Regions from separate parts of the Homo sapiens genome. Here region 2 is linked to region 1. The links come from fine-mapping of genetic effects on gene expression. A gene starts in region 1. The other region holds a variant in brackets. All regions are shown on one strand. Distances are between the middles of the regions.

The links.
Region 2: its variant is fine-mapped to the expression of ZFYVE28 in whole blood (INTERVAL, PIP 0.99).

The regions. Positions count from the first base shown.
Region 1 is chr4:2,413,861-2,425,189 of GRCh38, forward strand. ZFYVE28 (zinc finger FYVE-type containing 28) reads right to left here and starts at 4,785. Exons shown (of 13, transcript NM_020972.3): 1 at 4,425-4,785. The coding sequence starts at 4,463. It overlaps CFAP99 (cilia and flagella associated protein 99), which reads left to right and starts at 5,095. Exons shown (of 16, transcript NM_001193282.4): 1 at 5,095-5,233. RefSeq lists enhancers at 2,387-2,945, 2,946-3,504, 8,895-9,485, 9,486-10,075, 10,076-10,665 and 1 more and silencers at 4,510-4,669, 4,790-5,019, 5,260-5,309.
Region 2 is chr4:2,327,344-2,338,672 of GRCh38, forward strand. ZFYVE28 (zinc finger FYVE-type containing 28) reads right to left here. Exons shown (of 13, transcript NM_020972.3): 5 at 10,064-10,153; 6 at 8,362-8,451. Among named protein-coding and RNA genes, the nearest start is that of MXD4, 71 kb to the left of the region's middle. RefSeq lists enhancers at 3,571-4,070, 4,385-5,182, 5,183-5,980, 5,971-6,050, 5,981-6,778 and 2 more. The variant T/C (reference allele first, on the strand shown) is at 5,628.

The DNA of each region.
Region 1 (11,329 bases):
GCCAGGCCCCAGTGTCCACCAAGACCCCTCCCACAGCCTTCCAAGCCCCAGCTGTATACTTCTGGGGGATCTCTGTCATCGCCCCTCACCCTCAGCCACCAGTGGGGAGCCCCAAAAGGAGGACTGGGCTGCGCCTCATCTCTGCACTTCGGGACCAAACAGATATATCCAGACCTTGCCCCACCCCCCACTCTGGGGCCCGCCCCCATCTGCCACTTCGTTTCCAGGGTGCCGCCCCTCTCAACCAGGTGGCCAAGGTACAGAGTGCTGGCCACCAATGGGCAGCTCTCTTCAAGGGCCCATGACCAAGTGGGCTGGAACCCCGAAAACCCTCAGGTGACTGAGGCTGGGTTAACAAGAGCCGAAGGGCAGGAAGTCCCATACTCAGTACTGCTCAGTCCTGGCAGGTTCCCACAAAACATGCCAGTGGGGTTGGCACCCAGGCAGACTTTACCAAACCCAAAGGGGTCTTCTTTCATAAAGCACACACACCCAGCAAGTCACTCAGGCTTCTCTTGGCAAAGGCCATGTCATCGCTAATCTGGGCCTGGAATGTTTACAGGAAGTTGCCAAATACACATCACTCAGTAAGGCAGATTTATAAGGAATGTTCTCCTACAAAGCGGGGGGACAAGAAAGGTTAATAGCCCCCACTCTGAAAACGGTCTGGGGGTGCAGACAAGCGAGCTCTTCTCGGAGTGCAAGGTTGAGCATGGTAACCAGCCACATGGGAACTACCCCATCCACCCAGCCAGCATAACCCACTGAGGGTCAATTCCTCCTCAAAGATGGAAAACACAAATTCATCCTGAGTGATATTAATATGCTCTTTGGTGATGGCCAGGAAATCTCTCCCAGGTCCAGGTAAGTGTCCAGGTCCCTCTCCCCCATGCCGGGAATTCTCACCTCCTAGTGACCAGGAACTTCCAGCCAGGTCAATCAATAGAAAGTCATAACCAAGCAAGAAACACAGCACTGAGACTTTTGTTTCAGATGAAGACACCAACCATGCCAAAATGGTTTGCCTTTCTAAAGCATAAACTCTCTTGAAAAGACTTTAAAGAAAGGCAAGAAAGTATTTCACCAACATCAATAAAGCAGGACAAGCTGACAGGTTTTCCTGCACCGTCTCTTCCTGGGAGTGTTCAAAGTCAGGATAATACTTACAAGATCTGAACACTTTATACCAAGAAAAATCATATTGGTGTTTAAAAGACTGATTAAGAAAGTGAATAGAAATATAATTTGCAAATGTCATTTTAATGTTAAACTTTTGTATTATTCATCAGGCATTCTTTTACTCAACTTAGGTAGCTAACGTAGTAGCTAATTTTTATTCAGATATCAAAATGTATGTCACACAGGAATATTTTTCAGCATTTCCAATTGCTTTTTATAACTATAAGAACAGTGAATAATATTTTCATTTCAGAATATTTTCCACCATATTGTGATGAACAAGAAGCTCAGTGCTGGCCAAGCACAGTGGCTCACACCTGTAATCCCAGTGCTTCGGGAGGCTGAGGCAGGAGGATTGCTTGAGGCCAGGAATTTGAGTCCAGCCGGGGCAACATAGTGAGACCCTGTCTCTACACACACACACACACACACACACACACTTAAAAATTTATAAAAAGAAGCTCGCTGTGCAGTTTTAAACCAAAGCAGGAATTCAATTAAAAATTCAGTTTGAATTGTACATCTATCTAAATACAAAGTGGGAAAAAAATTCCTGACTGCAGGCAACAGTCTCCCCCAGACACATCCTCCCACAGCTAATGTTTAACACTTCAACTCTTCCAGGCCCAGAATCTTCCCAGGACTGACTTTGTGCTTATTTGTGCCAAAATGTGTTAAATTAGACAGGAAGGGGAAGCATAAAATTCAATTCATAATCCAAGGCAAGAATCTGAGCTTTGGTTTGAAAAATGAAAAGCTATGGAGTGACATAACATACTCCGACCCTTCAAACAATCAAGATATTTAACTCCAAAGACATTTCTCAAATAAGAGACAGCCCAAGTTCAGACTGCCCACAGGGCACCAGCTCCCAGAAAAATGCTATGGCCAGAGACAGATCTGAAATGGAGATACGTCTCAAGTCCAGAGCTCTGGAGCTACTACCAGACAGCATGCCAGGAGAAGACAACGAGAAAAAGGAGAGATCCACATCAATCCTGTTCCATCCCTTCTCCGGAGGCACACAGCTCTGGGCTGATCCCTGGGATCAGCTGATTCACTGGCTGTGCCCTCTTGGTGCCCGCCGCCTGCCTGGAAAGGCAGCTGCCTGCTGAAGAGGAAAAGTTGGGAACGCAATTCCTAATTCTCAGGACAACGTCTAGTACCATGTTCTACCTTTAACCTGTCTTCCCTAAACGGAAACAGACAAGGCCATCCTGAAATTACTCAGCTACTCATGAAACAGAGTCTACAATTATTTTTCCTTCCTTTTCAACACGATTAGAAGGGTGATCCCCCAAATGCGGCCTCTTCCACAGCCACGTCCGGAGGGGCATCCCCTAGTGTCCCAGCAAGTGCCTTCAGCGACACCAGAATGTTAGTTAAGACCTAAGACACATTTCTCCAGCTGCCTCCCGCCATTTGTCACAGAAAATAATGCTGCTGCACGCCCCCAAAACGCCGTTTTACAAGCAGACTTGGTTTTCAGTAACTGGTGAGGAAAAGTCACTGGAACCAAACACCATTCATACAGCTATCCAGAGCGGAGGCCACCGCCCTACCCCGGCAGAGGCACATGGGGGCAGCAGGCAGGACCGAGAGGGGCTCGAAGGCGCCGCAGGAGGAGAGGCTGGGCGCAGACGGCTCGGCCCCAAACCACACCCAGCGCCAGGAAACGCAAGGCTCGGGACGAACCCTTAAGAAGTCGCTGCTAGGGACAGGGAGGTTGGGAGCAGGGAGTGACGCCACAGGAACCCTGAATCCCCCCGAGTCCCCTCCCAATCAAGCCAAGGCCGAGCAAGGGGCGCCCCATGTACCGTAAGCCCTCAACCCAACACTCCGGCAACGACAAACAGAATTCCCCGACCTCAAAGGCCGTGAAGCACGCGCCCTTCGGGGCCCTGAGTGAGCCCTCAAACCTCCGTGCCGATCTTCCAAACCCACCTCCCGCCTTCCTGGAATGGGCGCACGCGAGGCACGGATTTCAGGAAACCTCTGCCGTGACAGCTCACCCACGGTGGAGGCGGAGGCCTGGGACGCTGGACGGAGAAAGGCGGCCAGTGGAGGGAGGAGGGGTAGGTCGGCAACGCGGTGGCCTCGGACGTCCGAGCTGCCCGGACGAAGCGCTGGCCCCACTCCCGCCCTTGGTCGCCGCGGTGACCCCACCCGAGCCGTGACCTCCCCCAAGATCTCAGGGCCCGGGCCTCCCCGCTGCGCCGGCCCCAGGGTGCCACCCTCGGACGCCCAGATGCGCCCTGGACCCTGCGCCGGGATCCTGAACACCGCCGCGCCTTCATCCCGCGCCGAGCGCGCCCGGCCCTGCTCCGGCTGCAGCGGGCACGAGCCCCAGGCGGGCGGCGGGGACGCAGCGCCCGCAGTGCGACTGGCGCAGCCGCTGAGGCACGGGGCGCGCCGCCCGGACCCCGACCCCGCGGCGCTAGGAGAGGCGCGGGCGCCGGCTGGAGAGCCGCACCTCCCGCCCCGCCGAGGCTGCTGGCCACGGGCGCGCTCGCCCCAAGGGCCGGGCGGAGGACCTGTCCCGGATTCCAGAGGACGTGGGTGGGGAAGGGACAAGGATAGGGACAAGGGAGGGGACGCGAACTGGGCCGAGGTGTGGGTCAGTCCTGGTTCGGGAAGGGAGGCCGTTGGCAGGGCCATCAGGATCCTCTCTGGACATGGAAGGACGGGTCTGCCCTGGACCCAGGGATTGGGAAATGTGGGTTCTCTCAGAACCTGGGGAAGTGGGGAGAGGGTCTGTTCTGGAGTGCGGAGGGAGATCTATTCCGGGCCCAGGACAATGGGGGTGGGGGCAGGACGGGAATGAGGGGGCATTCCTGGTGCAGGGAGGGGAGACGGAGAAGTAGTAGGGGGTCTGCTCCGGGCCCGCGGGCTGGGGACCACGAAGTGTAGGAGGGCACCGTCCAGGACCGGGATGAGGAGGGAGAGGGGCCCGTTGTGGCCCTGGATAGAGGGGGAGGGAAAGTGCGCCCCGGCCCGAGAGGAGGAGCAGGAGGGTCAGTCCTGGACCCGGGCTTAGGAAGCCGGGAGGGAGGTTCGGATCCGCCTCAGAGACAGGGCGATGAAGATCTGTCCAAGTCTTGGAGTGGAGGGAAGGATGTCGGCGGTGGGGGAAGAGGCCGGCCACGGACAGGGAAAGGGAGTCCGTCTTGTAGGGCGGACGGGCGGTCCTGGGGAAGGGAGAGGCCGCGACGCGGGGGGCGTCCGGCCCGAGCGGGGCCGCTCACCTTGGGTTTGTAGAGCCACTTTCGGAACCTGTTCATCATCGCCGCGCCGGCCCTGGCCGGACTCCGGGCGGCCCTCGCCCTCCGCAGCGCTGCGCCCGGGCCCGGCTGAGGCGCGGGGCGGACGCGGAGGCACGGCCGGAGCCCCCGCGCTGTCGCAGGGAGGCTGGCTAGCGAAGCCCGGAGCGCCGAGCGGGCGGCGGGCAGGTGCGCGGGGCAGGTGCGCGGCCCTGAGTATGCTCTGCAAGCGGCGCGCCGGGCAGACCTCAGACCCGGGAGTGGGCGCTCGGGCGCACGGACAGACGCGGGCACGGGGGCGCGCGGCTCCTCGCTGCTCACTGACACCCAGCGCTCCGCTGGTCACGGCCGCCCCGCGCCGCACATGCGCCTAGGGCGCCGCGAGCCCCGGGCCCACCGCGCGCTGCGGGCGGGGCGGGCGGGGCGGAGGCGGCCCAATCCCTGCGCGGGCGCCGCACCCCGCCCGAGGCGCGCTCCCTGCCGGCGGGGCGACCCGCCGCGCCCGGGTATCCAAGAAACTACAAGTCCCGAAAGGCATGGCGGGGAGGTGGCGCCCAGGGCTTGGCGTCCCGGGCCGCGCCGCGGCGCTGTGTATTGTGGGAGTTGTAGTCCACCCGATGGCGGCGGAGCGTGCCGCCGGTTGCTAGGTGACGACGCCAAACAGCCGCGGCGTCCTGCCTACCGGGAGCTGACGGACGACGACTGCCAACACCTTAGCCCCAGCTGGCCCAGGAAACTGCTGCGGTGGCAGGTGGCGGCGGCAGGAGGGCTCGGCTGCCCCGAGCGCCCGCCAGGTACGGGGGCGGGACAGGTGCGGGGCGACGCGCCGCCGATTTTCATGACCTGCCGGCCGGTTCCCTCTCGCTCGCTGCTCATCTTGCTTCTCCCAAACACCTCTTCTGTCTTCTTCCCAGCTCCCCGATGAAAGTGAACGGTGCCTCTTTTTTTTTTTTTAAATCACCACTATCAGCGGTGCGTTCTAAAAAGATACTCTTCCGCCCTCGCTACTCCCCCCAGTGGTGCCCTAATTTGTACCTTAAAACGCTCACCTCAATCTGAGTACCTGCTATGTGTCAAGCAGAGAGCTAAAAACCCACACGTGGCCTCACTTAAACTTCCCATTGACAGCCAGAGAAGCAGGCACAACGAGGCCGGCGTGCCCTGGCTGTGGGGGTTGCATCCAGATCACGGCGGATCTGGGTCGGCCTGACCCCACAGCGCTGCACTTTTCCCTGCCGCACCACCACCACGTCTCTGGCTTGTTGTGAAACGTGCAGATGTAAGACACAGGAGATGGAAGTCATGCCCCCCTCGGTTCAGAATTGAGAAGTCTGACCTGTTCCTGCTTGTCCTCACTGGCCAGTGCCAGGTGCTCAGAAAGGTCCGTGGGCTCCATGACCACTTTATTCCAACAGACGCGATGTGAGCCTAGGCGCGCTGGCATCTAAGATTTCTCTTAGTTGGGGGTAGGGTCCATGTTTATTTTTGAGTAACTGATTGATTTTCCCTACTCTCCTCTTCCTACCACCCAGTCGACCCTCTGAAGGGCAAAACCCCTCTGGAGTTTCCCCTTATCTCCAATTCCTTCCCACTTGTTCTTTCTGGAAACTACTCCCATCAGATTTTCACCCAACCACTCCTCTGAAGCTCTTTATCAAAGTCATCCTTGACCTTGATGTTGCAAAATCCGATGATCGGGGTCAGCGCTCATCTCTTCCTTGAACTGTCACTACCACGTGACCCAGCCGACTGTGCCCTCTCCGTGACACAGCATCCTCACTTGGCTGAAACAGATCCCACTGTCCACTTCTCCTCCTCGCTCCTGGCCACTCCTGCTTGATCTCCTTGGCTGGATGCCTCCCCTGCTCACCGACCTCTCAACACTGGAGACCCTGGACTCAGTCCTTGGAACCTACTCTATCCACTCCCTCCCTGGGGGATTTCCTACAGTTACATGGTTTTATAAACAACCATTTTCTCCCAAACTTCTCAAAACCTATATCTCTAGCCTCAACCCTGAAACTCCAGACCTGTTTACCTGTTCTTCACCATTTGGACGCCTAACAGATCCTCTCAAATTTAACGTGTCCCAAACCACACTCTCAGTCTTCCCCCATAAAACCTGCTGCTCCCAAAGCCATCATTTCTTCAGCACAGGATCTTGGGGTAGACACTTGATGGGCTTGTCCACTGAGTGAATGGCTGTTCTCTGTGGGTCTATCCTTGGCCAACTCCAAGGCCTGGAGCAGTTGTATCTGCTCAGAGGCTCCCTTCCTGTGTTTTATAGTTTGAAATTGTGCATGGGATGAAGGCTGAACTTGGGGAAGTGGGGTATCAGTTAGGTTTAGCTGCATGTATTGAAAAATCCCAACATCACAGTGGCCTAAACAAGAATATTACTCATATTTTTATAAAAGAGGTCCATGGAGAGGCAATCGTGGTTGGTATGGCAGCCCTAAAGTCCTCAAGGATCAGCTTTTCTATCTGCCATTCACGTTTCTTCATGATCCAGGATGGCTGCCCACATTCCTGCCATCACCTCCTCGGCCCAGGAACCAGCTGCAAAAGAGAAGATGGATATGCCTCTCTCGTTCAGGGAGACTTTCCAGAAGTCTCACACCTTTCCACTTCTTGAAGGTGGTGGGAGAACTTAGCCACACAACCATGCCCCAGCTGCCAGGGAGGCTGGGAAATGCCATCTTTCAATTGGGCAGCAGTAGACCCAGCTAAAAATCAGAGTTTTCTTATTTGGGAGGAAAGGGGTAGTGGAGATTGAAAAGCAACTAGCAAAAGCTGCCACGTGGGGTTGTGCTTTAAGCACAAGCCATAGGGGCATGACTTGGTAGCAACCCTTAGGAGACTGGCTTTAATCGGGAGAAAAGACTATATTTTAATTAACATACATTTGAGATCTTAGGTAAATGAGTTATCTCCTAGTGGTTGAGAGTGTTGAGCTGTTTTGTGTCTGATGGAATTTAAACCTCCTCATATAATCTCATTTGTGTCTATAAAATATTTCCTAAGGAAAGAGAAGCTTTAGTCTGCCCACCCTTTTTTTTTTTTTTTTTTTTTTGAGATGGCGTCTCGCTCTGTCGCCCAGGCTGGAGTGCAGAGGCACGATCTCAGCTCACTGCGACCTCTGCCTCCCGGGTTCAAGCAATTCTCTGCCTCAGCCTCCCAAGTAGCTGGTATTACAGGCACCTGCCACCACGCCTGGCTAATTTTTGTATTTTTAGTAGAGATGGGTTTTCACCATGTTGACTGGTCTGGAACTCCTGATCTCAAGTGATCTGCCCGCCTTGGCTTCCCAAAGTGCTGGGATTACAGGCATGAGCCACCGCGCCCAGCCTAGTCCAGCCCACCTTTAAAGTTGCCTTAAATATAAGATAGTCAAGTCCTGATCAATGGAGTTAAAATCAATATGAGAAAAAAATCTTTAAACTTGAGAATTAAATCCCACTTCCCACATAGATGGTACTTCACTATTAAAGCTGAACTTTGGAATGCTCAGGTGGGAGGATCGCTTCAGGCCAGGAGTTCAAGACCAGCCTGGGCAACATAGTAAGACCCCTGTCTCTACAAAAAAAAAAAAAAAATTAAGCACAAAATTAGTCGGGCGTGGTAGTACATGCCTAGAGTCCCAGCTACCCCGGAGGCTGAGGCAGGAGGATCACTTGAGCTGCAGTGAGTTATCATCGAGCCACTGCACTCCAGCCTGGGTGACAGAGTGAGACCCTAAATCAGGAAAAAAATAAAATCAGGCTGAGAATTTGAGAATGCATGAATGTAGCTGAGATGCTGAAAGCAGGCGTCACAGTTGGATGAATTTTAGTACCTATTTCCTCCCCAAAGAGGTGATTGTTTTGATGAAGTTCCTAGGCTAATTTCAGTGGGATTCAGAATTCAAGCATCTCTTTTCCTTACATTCACCTTCACATACACCTGCTCTGCGCCAGATTCAGGGGTGCAGAGGCCCCGCCCCAGGGACCTTCAGGCCGGACAGTGAACCAGGGTTCCAGGGGCAGGGCAGGACAATTTGAGTCAGGCTGGACTCCAAAGGAGCTCTTCACCCCCGTCCCCATCTTCAACTTGGTTTGTCCATTTATTCCTTCCAGTTCATTCCTACCAGGTCCGCCCTGGATTGGGGGGCGGGCTTGGCATGGCCCTCTTCCTCCTCCTCGATTTGCATCACCAAAGGGTACCTAGGATCATCCTTTCTCCAGAATGCTCCAGCTCCAGGACAGGGGGAGACGGCAGGGAAACTGTTCCACCTTGGCAGCAGCTCCCACCACACACATGCAGACCATCCACTCTCACCGCCCCCACCAGGCGCAAGAAGGGGCCCTTTTCCTGGGTGTATACCCTGTTCCTCCAGGCAGAGCTGTATCCAGAGCAGATTCAAAAAGGCTGGGGCAAGGGGACCCCATCCCAGGGCAGCCTGACCCACAACGTGACGTGGAGGCAGGGCAAGAAAACTCACTCTTTAACATTGTTTCTCTAGAAGTAGACCTTTACATTTATTTATTAGACAGGATCTCAATGTGTCACCCAGCCTAGAGTGTGGTAGCACAGACATAGCCCAAAGCACCTTCAACCTCCTGGGCTCAAGGGATCCTCCCACCTCAGCCCCCCAAGGAGCTAGGACTACAGGCGTGCCACCACACCTGAGTCATTCTTTAATTTTTTTGTAGAGAAGTCCCCAGTTACGCTGTGGAGTTTTAAAAAACGTCTCAGTGTGGCTGACCCTGGCGAAGATGGGGAGTGGGATTTGTGAGCTGTGAGCTCACTGCCTACAGGGAGCCCCCACTGCTCTCAGCAATGCCTGGAGTGAAAGCCACAAGTCCCCCCTCCCCAAAGAGCAATGCCCCAGAAAAGTGCTTCCTGCTGCCAGCAGCCTATTGCCCCCTGGCTGTGTTATGGCTGCCTGGATCCACCTACCCACCAGGGTTGGCCACCACGCCCACACTGCACCACACCGCACCGCACCCCTGCCATACTGGTGGCCTGGCCTGCTGGGACCCTCCCGAGGAGAGGGGCTGAATTCAGAGAGAGCAGGGACTTAGGGTGAGCCTGTCACAAGCTTAAGGCCCTGCCCTGAGTATTCCTGCCTTGGCAGGCTCAGGGGAGGGTGCTCAGTGGGCCTCCTGGGCCTTTCTGCTCACAGCTGTTGAAATCCCCACGCCAGAGACTCAGCTAGAGGGGATCAGAGGAGAGTGAAAGGACCCTGAGGCTGGGGTGGGGTGTGGGTGGTCTCTCTTCCATGGCCCAGCCTTCCAAGAAGCAAAGGTTTCCCGCAGGATGGGCTGAGGCAGCTTAGGTGGCAGGTCCCCAGGGGCAGGCCATGAAGGGGGTGGGAACCCTCAGAGGGTCTGGGCAGCCTCACCCACAAACCTCTCTCATCTTGCCCAGGCAAGCCTGGCTGCAGCATCTAGATTTCAGCATCTGTGGATTTGCGGGTTTAATGGCTTCTGATCTGGTGTTCTCCAAGCCAGCAGCATCACTGTCTCTTCCCTTGCCCCGAATCATCAGGACCGCACTGGCGCAGGAACGCACCTCCAGGCAGCCTTGCTGGTCTCCAGACATGGGGTGGGGGGAGGGGGACCCAGCCGGGGCCCAGGGCAGGCTCCCGGGCAGTGACGGTCCTGGCTGTGCCAGAGGCTCATGCTCGCTTTGTTCTGGGAGGCCTGGTCTCCAGGGCCTGTTTTCAGCACCAGGGCTTCAAGCCAGATTTCCAAATTCCAAGCGGCCTTTCTTCTGGCCTCCTTAGAGAGAGGCTCCTGCTGGCCTCTGTGTCCATGCACAGCCAGGCTGGTCCCTAAAGCAGCCCCTAAAAGGACAGCCTGGCGTGGTGGCTCACGCCTGTAATCCCAGCACTTTGGGAGGCTGAGGCAGGCAGATCACCTGAGGTCAGGAGTTTGAGACCAGCCTGGCCAACATGGCGAAATCCTGTCTCTCCTAAAAAAATACAAAAATTAGCCACATGGTGGCTATACAAAAATACAAAAAATAGCCACATGGTGGTGGGTGCCTGTAATCCCAGCTACTCAGGAGGCTAAGGCAGGAGAGTCGCTTGAATCTGGGAGATGGAGGTTGCAGTGAGCCAAGAGCACGCCATTGCACTCCAGCCTGGGCAACAAGAGCAAAACTCCATCTCAAAAAAAGAAAAAAAAAGAACAGCCCATGTCAGGCCTCAGGTGGTGCAGCCAGCAGGGAGGTGGGGACACAGGCCCTGGGCTGATGCCATCCCTAGCCAGGTCCAGCGTCACAGCCTCTTTCCCTAACTGTGCAGCTAAACCCACTCACAGAACATGCCAGGTGCTCCTCCTGGAGACACCCCCGGGAGCCCCTGCCCTCCTGCTCTGTCCTTGTCCTGCCAGCCAGTGTCACCTTGGGGCTACCTGCATCGCAGCCTGGAAATTCCCCACAACGACAGTCACTTGGGTTCAGCCCCTGCTTCCCAGGGCACCCCCAGCCGAGACTCCTCTGCATCCCTGACTCTTCCTGCACTGAACGTGTTCGGGGCGTCCCTGGCTCTGAAATATCATGACTCATTCCCTGTGCTAAGCTGCCAGTGGGCCTTGTCCGTCCAGAAGACCGCATCCTTCAGTTCTAGGGCGTTTTCTTGTTATTTCTCTCTCTTGTCTCTCTGGAACTCCTGTTAATTGGGGTTTGGACCTTCAGGAATCGTTCCCTGATTTTCTTAGCGTTTTCCCCTACTTTCTATAGCTTCATCTTTTTCTACTCAGGGAGATTTCCTCAACTTTACCTTCCGTCTCCTGTTTATGTTTTTAGTTCTGTCATCGTATTTTGGTTTTCACGAGCCCTCTCTTTTTCTCCAGCCATTGCTTGTTCCTTGGACGCTGTATCTCCTCTTCTCTTGCATGGCAGTG
Region 2 (11,329 bases), 87 kb before region 1:
CTTCTTTTCCTATTTGGATGCCTTTTCTTTCTTTCTCTTGCCTAATTGCTTTGGCAAGGACTTTCAATACTATATTTAATAGAAGTGGGAAGAGTAGGCATCCTTGCCTTGTTCCATATCTTACAGGAAAGGCTTTCAATTTTTTACCATTGAGTATAACGTTAGCTGTGGGCTTCTTGTTATATATGGCCTTTATTGCGTTAAGGCACATTCTTTCTTTTTTTCTGTTTTACATTTTCACTCAGTGGTACCCTTGAAGGGATATATTCCTTCTACATCTAATTTGCTGAGTTTTTCATCATAAAATGATGTTGAATTTTATCAAATGCTTTTTCTGCATCTAATGAGATGATCATATGGTTTTTTTATTCTATTAATGTGATGTATCACAATTATTGATTTGTGTATATTGAACCATCCTTGCATTTCAGGGATAAAAACATTTCTCAAAAGAAGACATACAAATGACCAACATCACTAGTCATTAGAGAAAAGCAAACTAAAGCCACAGTGAGATATCATTTCTCATTTGTCTGAATATCTTTTATCAAGAAGATGAAAGATAAGTGTTACCAAGGATGTGGAGAAAAGGGAACCCTTGCACACCATTGGTAGGAATGTAAATTGGTACAGCCATTATGGAAAACAGTATAGAGGTTCCTCAAAAAAACTACAAATATAATTGCCATATGATCCAGCAATCCCACTTCTGGGTATTTACCCCAAACATCTGAAATCAGTTTGTTGAAGGGATGTCTGTAGTCTCATGTTCATTGCAGCATTATTCACAATAGCTAAGTTATGAAATCAACCTAAGCGTTTAACAGATGAATAAAGAAAATGTGGTATATATACACAATAGAATACTATTCAGCCTTAAAAACAAAAGAGATTCTGACATTTGTGAAAAATTGGATGGAATTTTAGAACATTATGCTAAGTGAAATAAGTAAGGACCAGAAAGACAAATACCATATGTTCTCACTTACTTGTGGAATCTCAAACAATTGAACTTATAGAATCAGAGAGCACAACAGTGGTTATAGAGGCTGGGGGTGTGGGGAATGGCCAAAGAGTATAAAATCTCAGACTAGAAGAATTTTTTTTCTTTTTTTGAGTTCTTTGCACATCATGGTGAATACAGTTAATAATAGAGTGCTGTACATTTCCAAATTGTAAGAGAGTAAATTTAAAATGATCTCATTCAAAAGATGTTAAATATTTGAGGTGATGGATATGTTAACCAGCTTGATTTAATTATTCCACACTGCATTCATAGATTATAACACAACTTTGCATGCTATAAATCTGCGCAATTATAAATTGCCAGTTTATCATTATAAAAAGAAAAAAAAATACCTTCACAGCAACATTCAGACTGGTATTTTACCAAATATCTGGGTAATGTGGCCTACCCAAGATGACACATGAAGTTAACCATCGCAGGGTCCAACTTTGTTCTTTTTTTTTTTTTTTTCCAACTTTGTTCTTTTGCATGTGGTTATCCAGTTGCTCCAGGAACATTCACTGAAGAGACTGTTCTTTCCTTATTGAATGATCTTGGCCCCCTTGTCAATAATCAGTTCACCATAGATGTTTGGGTTTATTTATGGCTTCTCAATTTTATTCCATTGGTCTATACATCTATCTTTATGCCAGTACCATAAGGTTTTGACTTGTAGTAAGTTTTGAAATCAGGACGTATGAATCTTCCAATTTTGTTTTTGTTTTTCAATATTGTTTTGGCTATTTAGGGCCCATTGCAGTTCCACATGAATTTTAGAACACCTTTTCCATTTCTGCAAAACAAAAAGGCCAATGGAGTTTCGACAGCAATTGCACAGAATCTGTAGATCACTTTATGGAGTATTGCCATTCTAACTATATTAAGTCTTCCCATCCATGAACATGGAATGTCTTTCTCTTTAATTATGTCTTTAATTTTTTCAGCAACGTTTTTTAGTTTTCAGCATCCATGCCTTTCACCTTCTTGATTAAATTTATTCCTAGGCATTTTACTCTTTTGAATGTTATCACACATTTCTTATTTAAAATAACAGCTAATTACATCCAATGGAATATTATTCAGCCTTAAAAAGGTAGGAAATTCTGACACATGCTACAACATGGGGGAAACTTGAAAACATTATGTGAAGTGAAATAAGACAGTCACAAAAGGGTAAATCCTATATATTAGGTTGGTGCAAAAGTAATTGCAATTTTTGCCATTAAAACCCTAAGAAAGGGTCAAAATGGCCAATTTTGTTATGTATATTTTACCACAATAAAGAAGAATGTTTATTGCTTTAATTTCTGTTTACAAAAGTTTTACCTATCAATGTTAAGAAACTCTGTAAAATAGAGACATACTATTTGATAACAGTTTTTGTGCTTAATACACTGGGGATGTTTTTGCATAGCATTAGGAGATTTTTCTCCATCATTATTTAAATGGCTACAGTATTGTTTTTAACCAATCCCTTAATTCTGGATATCCATCCCTTCTCAAATTTTTATGATTACAAGTAATACTTCGGGGATAATCTTTGTGGATATATATTTGTGCCCCCTCAGATCAATGCAACAAAATTCTGCAAAAGTCCACCACACTATGACATGACAGGCACTCAGGATGCATCCGTGAATAAGAGTTATAGTCTAGTGGGGGAGACACAAAAATAACAGAAATCCCATTTATATGAATAACCCAATAGCCAAATCTATAGAAACAGAAAATAGATTTGTGGTTCCCTAGGGTTAAGGGGCAGGATGAAGGATAATAGGGGGTGGAGGTGACCGCTCAGGAGTAAGAGACATCTTTGTGAGTAATGAAAATGTTATGAAATTTGTGGTGATGGCTGCACAATTCTGAATGTACCAAAAACGACTGTGCACTGTAGATGGGTGAGTCATAGGGTAATGAATTTTATCTCAGTAACATGGAAAAATAAATAACAGAGTAAGTCACGCAACCTGCTGGTGGGAGAGGGCTTGGGTGAGCGGTGCAGTGGTGGGGACATCGCAGAGGGAGGTACAGCAGGGAGTAGGGGACAGTGCAGAGGAGAGGACAGCACGGAAGAGGGGACATCATGGAGGGGACAGCACGGAGGAGGGAACATCATAAAGGAGGGGACAGCATGGAGGAGGGGACAGTGCAGAGGAGCACAGGGGAGAGGACATTGCAGAGGAAGGGACAGCATGGAGGAGGGGACAGCATGGAGAATGGGATAGCATGGAGAATGGGATAGCATAGAGGAGGGAACAGCATAGACAAGGGGACAGCATAGAGGAGGGGACAGTGTAGTGGAGGGGCCAGCACCATGGAGAGGACAGCATGGCCAAGAGGACACTGGAGCAGAGGGGACAGCGTGGAGGAGGAAACATCATGGAAAAGGGGACAGTGCGGGGGAGGGGACAGTGTGGCAGTAGGGATAGGACAGTCAAGGGGACCCTGAGCGAAGGGGACAGCATGGTGGAGACCCAGGGCAGCGGGTGCGTGGGGACTGGGGAGAGAGGACTGGTGTGGGCACGGTGCAGGCAGATCACGGTGGGAGCTCCGGCAAGGGTCTGAGCAGGGCAGAGATGACACCTTGTTTTGACACAGGTGGATGGGTGAGGGCCCCTGAAGAGGATCCGGCAACCATCCTGCAGGCCACGTGGGCGGTGGCTCCTGCACGTGTTCTGGGATGGGCTGGAAGGAGGGGGCTGGGGAGGAAGGCAGGGGTAGACGCTGGGATGGGCTGGAAGGAGGGGGCTGGGGAGGGAGGGAGGGGTAGATTCTGGGATGGGCTGGAAGGAGGGGCTGGGGAGGAAGGGAGGGAGGGGTAGAGGAGAGGGGCCTGGGTTCTGCACAGGTCCGGTCTGGGAAGCGTCGCACACACACAGCTGTGAGTGCAGACGGGCGAAGCCGCAGCGAGGCGGGCAGGCAGGTCTGTGCTGATGGGGACTGGGAAGTGACCACTGGGTCTAGAGGTTTTATTTCATTTCTTCCTTTAAAGGAACTGTTTTAAGGCCGGGGCTGGGCACGGTACCTCATGCCTGTAATCCTAGCACTTTAGGAGACCAAGGCAGGCAGATTGCTAGAGCCCGGGAACTCGAGACCAGCCTGGACAACACAGCAAGACCCTGTCTCTATTTTTTTTTTAATTAAAAAATAAAAATAAAAAGTTAAAAACAAAAAAAAGAAACTGTTTTAAGATAAATCCCCAAAAGTAAAACCAGTTTGTCAAAGAGTCTGAGCCTCGTGGAGACACTCTCCCCAGGACGCGTGTCTCAATCAGCAGGAGGGACTGACTGGATGCAGGTCTTAGGGAGGGGACAGGCTGAGGGGTGCAGGGCAAGTGGGGCCCCTCCCCTACGGCTCAGAGCAAGTCCCCACAGGGGTGACCCCCAGTTTTTGTCCTCACTGCCTGGTAAGGCCAGACCCCACCAGGCTGGGGACACCCTAAACAGGGGGAAGGGTGCCACCCAGCACTCCCTTCCACCTCCCCCTGCCAATCTGAAGGCCTCAGTTTACCACTGCCTCTGCCCCAGGCAGGCCTCCTCTGCCAGCCACAGAACTAGAGTTTTCTGCTTTCTTGTGTCACAGGTGAATAGCAGGCTCTGACCCTCGGGTGGGCTTGGTTCTGCCGCCTCCAGCTGTTGACCCCCAGCGGTGCCTTCGCCACTGGGAGCCCCTCAGAAGGGGACGGGAGCCTGGCCCGCAGCTCATGCTTGGTAAATGTGGCATCACTGTTCTGACACTGTGTGCTGGAGAAGGGACTGGGGCTCTCGGGCAGCAGCACAGTCACGGGCAGGAGCCACAGAGGAGCTCCACCCTCAGCTCCTGCCCCGCTCAGCACCCCTGCCTCCCCTCTGCTCTCAGTGTTCCCTGGGGGTCACCTGGGGGGTCCCAGGATGCCCACTTCACAGAGGCAGGATCCTGCGAGGGTGTGGGCCCAGGAATGCAGGCTAGAGGGGTCTTCATTTCTGCAGAAGTTCCTGCGGCCCCCTGGTCCTTGCTCGAGCCCTGGACTTGCCCCTGAGCATACACCACCTGCACCAACGTGCCCCTGCCTGCCACCTGCACAGCTCCCACCTCTGGGCCGGCTGCCCTGGGGAGCCTCTCCCTCACGCCTTCAGCTCCTGTCCACCCCATGGGGTCCCTGCACTGAGTCCCCCTTCCAGCATCCAGAACATTCCACAGCACTGTGGGTCAGCCCATCTGTCCATCTCCCTGGTACAAGCACAGGGCGAGGTATGCAGTAGGCACTCAATACTTGCTCACTGAATGAACACAGGAAGGAGCAGGTTCTGGGCCCCACCACGGGCAGCTGTGGCCTCTGCCTGTCCGGCTCAAAGCGGTCGCTGTGGATGACGAGGAACAAGACGGGATCCGCTGGTGGTGCAGGGCTGCAGGGCCCCAGTGAGCATCCCAGAGGGGCGGCCTTAGGAACAGCTGCCCACTCAGCACTCACCCGCTCAGCACTCACCCGCCCTGCTCGAGGCTCGCTGCACAGAGGGTTGCAGTGGCAGCCTGGTGCACCCCACGGTTCCTCGTATCCACAGCCTGGCTCTGTGGCTAGATGCCTGCCTCTGTGGGGGCTCACAGCTGGCCACCCCCCTGGACAGGCCTGCTCCCTGGACTC[T/C]GGCTTTGGGCTCTTATGCCCTCTCGCCCTTCCTCCCTCCTTCAATCCAAGCCCCCTTCACCTCCTGGGGGTCCCTCACTCCCTTTCCAGGCTCTCCCACTGTCCTGAGCCCGAGGGGACCCCACGCCAGTGCCTCCAGGAGGGGACCCGCGGGACAAAGCCTCTGCCAACAGAAGCTCCAGCCTCCCTCCCCAACCTCCCTCCCTTGGCCTCCCCCGCAGCACTGGCCTCCCCTGCTGCCCTTCCCTGACCCCCCCTGCTGCCCTTCCCTGACCCCCCACACTCCCCCACCTCCCTCCCCAAGCTGCCCCCCCACCTCCCTCCTCTGGCCTCCCCTACCCTGATCCCCCAGCCCCCGCCTCCCCTTGCCTCCCAGGATGAAAGCCTAGGACAGAAGGAGGAGCAGAGGTTTGGCCACCAGCAGGTGGACTGAGGTCGGCAAGCAGGACACAGATGATACTGGTTGGGGGAAGTGGCTGCTGTTCTGCGGTCGCCTGTACTCGGGCAAACACGGGCAGCAGACTCAGTGTGAAAGTCCCGAAACACAGTATGCCTGGGGTGCGGCCTGCGGGGAGGGTCACCTGGGGTCACCTGCACACTCCAGGCCCGACCTTTAAGAGGAAGTCCAGCCAGGGCTCACCGGCTCATTGACACGGGCATGAGTGGGCGGGTGGCTTGGTGCCACACCTCAAAGCACTCGCGGAGAACTTTTTACAAGGACAGCAGAGCTGTTCATTTGCTGTGAGTGCCCTTGGGACAAGGAGACACCTGTACCTGAGGCAAAGGCTCACAGCGCCCTGCGCCCTGGTGGAAACAAGGCCGGCTCGCAGGATCTTTGCTGTTCTGTTTTTTAAACAAAGAGAAGAATAAGGACCAAAACTGCCTGTCATTTTCTTCAAGTGAGTTTGGCCACAGAGAGACACTTGTCTAGAAAAGAAAAACAATGTCACCAAATCCTGTGGCCCATGGGAAGGGGCGCTCTGTGCTCTGGGGTGGCCTCTCCCCGCCAGGACACTTCCCTCCAAGCCACCTTGTCGCTGGCCACTGGGGACACCCTGCCCTCCAGCCCTGAGGTCTTCAGGTGAAAGGAAGTTCCCTGAGTCTAACGGCAGGAGGATTTCCGAGCCTCCCTCTGGCGCGATGTGAGGCTCACTCTCTCTGGTTTGCTAACTTTGTGAAAGACGCAACCTCTGCGAGGACACGGGAAGGACGGCGCAGGAAACAGGCCAGGCCCTGAGCTATTGGAGGGGACTCTGGGGAGCCAGGGCCCAGCAGATAGAGACCACGCTGGAGCCCTCCCGGAGGAGGTGGCACCAGGACCTAGGGGAGTGAGCGGCCTGGCCCAGGGGTGTCCAGACTGGCCCCGGCAGCAGCCCCCATTGCTCCCCACTCCAACAAGGGGTGTTCGGCGCATCCTGGGGTTAAGCACTTCTGTCCCCTGCAGGCCCCGCCGCTGGCCCTAGCCCACTGCACTGCCACCGCCCCGCGTGCTCCCACCTCTGCACCCCCATTTCCCACGGGAGGGGTATCCATGCTCAACCCCAGTGCACTGCCACGTGTGCCTGTGCCCCGGGGTCCCCTGGGGCTCCTCAGCATGGCCTCAGTGAGGTCTCTCCAGCCTGAGCCTGGACCAGTCGTGGCCTCTGTGCCCACCCCCCACTCCCCGACCACTTCACTGACATCCACATCTCCACGGGCATCTCTCTCAAGGGCTCCCCATCCCCTACTCTGCCCAGTCCCACACCTGCTGGCCGCTGCCCACTGGACCCTCCCCCTTCCCCCTCCCCTTCCCCCTCCCCACTTCCGCCTCCCCTCTTCCCCCTCCCCTCTTCCCCCTCCCCTCTTCCCCCTCCCCTCTTCCCCCTCCCCTCTTCCCCCTCCCCACTTCCGCCTCCCCCCCAGCTGCAAGCTCCACTAAGCTCTCTGTGGTCCACTCACTCCTCCGCCCCCGTGACCATCCGCCTGGCAGGGGCATGGGGAATCCCCGTCTGGAGTCAGGGTGTGGATGAGCAGCCTGACCCCTGGGCTCTAACCTTGGCCCCAGACAGCTCAGAGACGCTAAGCAGGTGACCCCGCGCATCCTGCCTCGGTGGATTTCAGGCCTGAGCTTCCATGTGCTGTGTTCACGTCCTTGAGCCCCACAGGACCCTACAGGCTGCCTTGAGTTCCCTGCTCTCCCAGACGGCCCCGCTGGCAGGAAAGGTTCCACACAGGTATTCCATCAGCCAGACCAACTGCCCCCACCTGCCCTTCAACCCAATGTGCTTCACCTCCCTGCCAGCCCCCAAATTATTCAAACAAGCCAATCACAGCCTCCTGAGGGACCCGGGGGGCAGCTCGTCCTCTTGTTACCACCAAGTCTGCCTCCCACAGCCCCTGCGTGGCCACTCTGTTCCGAGCATGACCCCTGTGTGACCCTCATGGTCTCCTGTGACTAATGAGCTCACCTGTGGATCTCACCTGTCCAGTGGCAGGTGGCAGGTGTTAGGCCACCTTGCCCTATCTAGGGTGACAGAGCCTCCCTCACCAGCAAGGTGAACAGGGGGCACTCAGGACACGTGGTCCCCTGGTCTGCTGAGGGCTGACAGCAGGCCTGCCTGTCACTGATCGGGACAGCTGAGCGGCCACCGTGAGGTGGAGACGCCATGGACCGGCACCCGCACGGGACCTGGCACCATCAGCCCTGCCCGTCCCGCAGGTTTCTGCAGAGGTCCTGGGCACAGGAGGCACTCACCACACGATGGCCAGCCTGGGGATGCTGAACATGAGGGCCGGCTCGTAGTCATCAATCATGTCCTGAGTCAGGTACCCGAAGTCCAGGGCCCTGTCCGGGGAGACGGACAGTGAGCAGCATGAGGGCTGGCCCACCACAGCCACAGGTTGGACCCCAGCAGGGACAGGCAGTGCGCTCAATCTGTACCTGCAGCCACGCGTGGTGGCCACGTCAAGAGGTGACACATGCCACCCCCAGTCCTCATATGTGCAAGGGGCTGGGACTGCAGGAAAAGGCCACACACTTCCCTAAATGCCCTGGCAGGTGGCTCCAGCTTGACCTTCCCATCTGCCAGTCCCCACCTCTGCCCCAGGAGGCAGGGGCAGGGAGGATGTGTGAGGACAGCTATGATGCCCAGCAAAGACAGTAAGGCAACCCAGAGGACGGCTCTGCTCAGCCAGGAGACCGAAACAACTCCGGTGTCAAGAATGAACACGGAACAAAAATACTGCCCCAAACAATTCAACACTTCCCTGAGAAACCAGCTTCCTTTCTCCTCCCCGGGGCTTGTGGAGGGCTTTTCCTGCACCTCGTGAGCAGGCCTGCTGGCATCGTGACTTTTCAAAATAAAAGGAATTTCCCGTCATCTTATTTTCTGATAATTTGAAATATCTCTCAAAGCACAAAGAGTAAAAATTTGCTTTTTAAAAATAACAAACATACAATGTGATAATAGTCAATTTCAAATCTTCCAAACACCATAGTACCACTTGAACAAGAGAAACATCAAGGTTACATCTTAACCCCAAAGTCCATTGAGAAAACCAGACTCCAAATTACTGTACAAAGCCTGATAAGAATATTGATGGCTTCCCCCTGCCCCCCCCACTCCCTAAAAAAGAAACACTTGTTCAACAGACTTAAAACTCAGCAAAAACTCATTCCTGGACTGGGGAGGTGGGGAGTGAGGATTGAGGAGTGAGGATGTGAGGATTGAGGAGGTGAGGAGTGAGAATGTGAGAAATAAGGAGCTAAGGAGTAAGGAGGTGAGGAGTAAGGAGGTGAGGAATGATGAGGTGAGGAGTGAGGAGGTGAGGAGGTGAGGAGTGAGGAGATGAGGAGGTGAGGAGGTGTGGATTGAGGAGGTGAGGAGTGAGGAGGTGAGGAGTGAGAAGGTGAGGAGGGAGGAGGTGAAGAGTGAGGAGGTGAGGTGAGGAGTTAGGAGGTGGGGAAGTGAGGAGGTGAGTGAGGAGGTGAGGAGTGAGGGGGTGAGGAGTTAGGTGGTGAGGAGTGAGGAGGTGAGGAGTTAGGAGGTGGGGAAGTGAGGAGGTGAGGAGTGAGGACATGAGGAGTGAGTAGGTGAGGAGTGAGGGGGTGAGGAAGGTGACAAGGTTTGGACGTCCAATCCATCATGCCAGAGCCTTCCAGCTTTTGTCCTCTGACAGTGACTTCACCTGCAGGATCTGACCTTCTGGCAGACAGAAAAGCGACCGTGGGGCGGTGGAAGGGGGCCGGGCAGAGGTAAAGGCAGGGGTGGCCTCTACCCTCTGCCCACCTGTGAGGAGAAGCCGGATGTAGTGTGGGAAGACACGTCTGGTGCCTTCCATCTGGGGCACTCCCGAGACACAGCAGGTTCCCCCAGAGCTGCCCTCTGCCCCGGGCCTGGAGTGAGGCAGGGACTCCCCAGATGCTGCCCCCAGCCCCTAAGCATCCCTGTGCTCACCTCTCCACCGTCTCGCAGAAGAGCACGATGACCTCCTGCTGCACGTAGTACTCCCTGGGGGACTTCACAGGCACCATGGCCGAGACGTAGCTGCAAACACATGGAGACCTGTGAGGCCGCACCTGGGCTGTGGCGGGGCCCCTCCAAAACAGAGTGGGGGGCATCTTCAATTAAAGCTGCAATGCTGGGCAAGGTGGGGGCGGGGGGCCTCACGCCTGTAATCCCAGCACGTTGGGAGTCTGAGGTGGGAGGATGGCTTGAGCCCAGGAGTTCGAGGCACCACAGCAAGACCTCATCTCTACAAAAAATAAAAAAGTCGGGTGTGGTGGTGGCAGGCACCTACAGTCTCTGCTACTTGGGAGGCTGAGGTGGGAGGATCACTTGTGCCCAGGAGTTGGAGGCTGCAGTGAATGGTGATGGTGCCACTGCATTCCAGGCTGGGTGACAAAGCAAGACCTTTTCTCTTAAAATACACACACACACCCTACACCACCATCCCATTTCGGCAGTTTCATAGTACACAGCTCCTGCCAGCCAGGCCTACCCCAGGCCTTCCCTTGAAACCCCAGCCCTGCCCATGCGGGACAGTTGTGCCAGCTCCCAGGGCTCACCCTGGAGCCTGACCACCCTGGACCCAGTGCTGCCCATGTGCGGGACCATCCCCCACCTTGGCACCAGCCTTAAGGGGCGAGAGAGAAACGAATGAACACGTGCACGGGTGGGTGAACAACCCGCAGCCCCACATGAACCTCCGCACGTGGACCTCCACAGCCACGGAAGCCAGCCCAGGCTGGGCACAGCGGCTTGCAGGAGGCCTGCCAGTGGCTCTGAGACGTGAAGGCTTGTCCAACCCTTCCCCAGATGAGAGCACTTTCTTTCCTTCTAAACCACCAACTCTAGGCCAGGTGCAGTAGCTCACGCCTGTAATCCCAGCACTTTGGGAGGCCAAGGCCAGCAGCAGATCACTTGAGGTCAGGCATTTGAGACCAGGCTGGCCAACATGGTAAAACCCTGTATCTACTGAAAACACAAAAAAATGAGCCAGGCGTGGTGGTGGTCACCTGTAATCCCAGCTACTTGGGAGGCCGAGGCAGGAGAATGGCTTGAACTCAGGAGGTGGAGGTCGCGGTGAGCTGAGATCGTGCCACTGCACTCCAGCCTGGGCAACAGAGTGAGACTCCGTCTCAGAAAATAAATAAATAAATAAATAAATCACTAACTCTAATTTTTTCTTATGGAAGCTGATTTAGAAAATTTGGGGAAGAC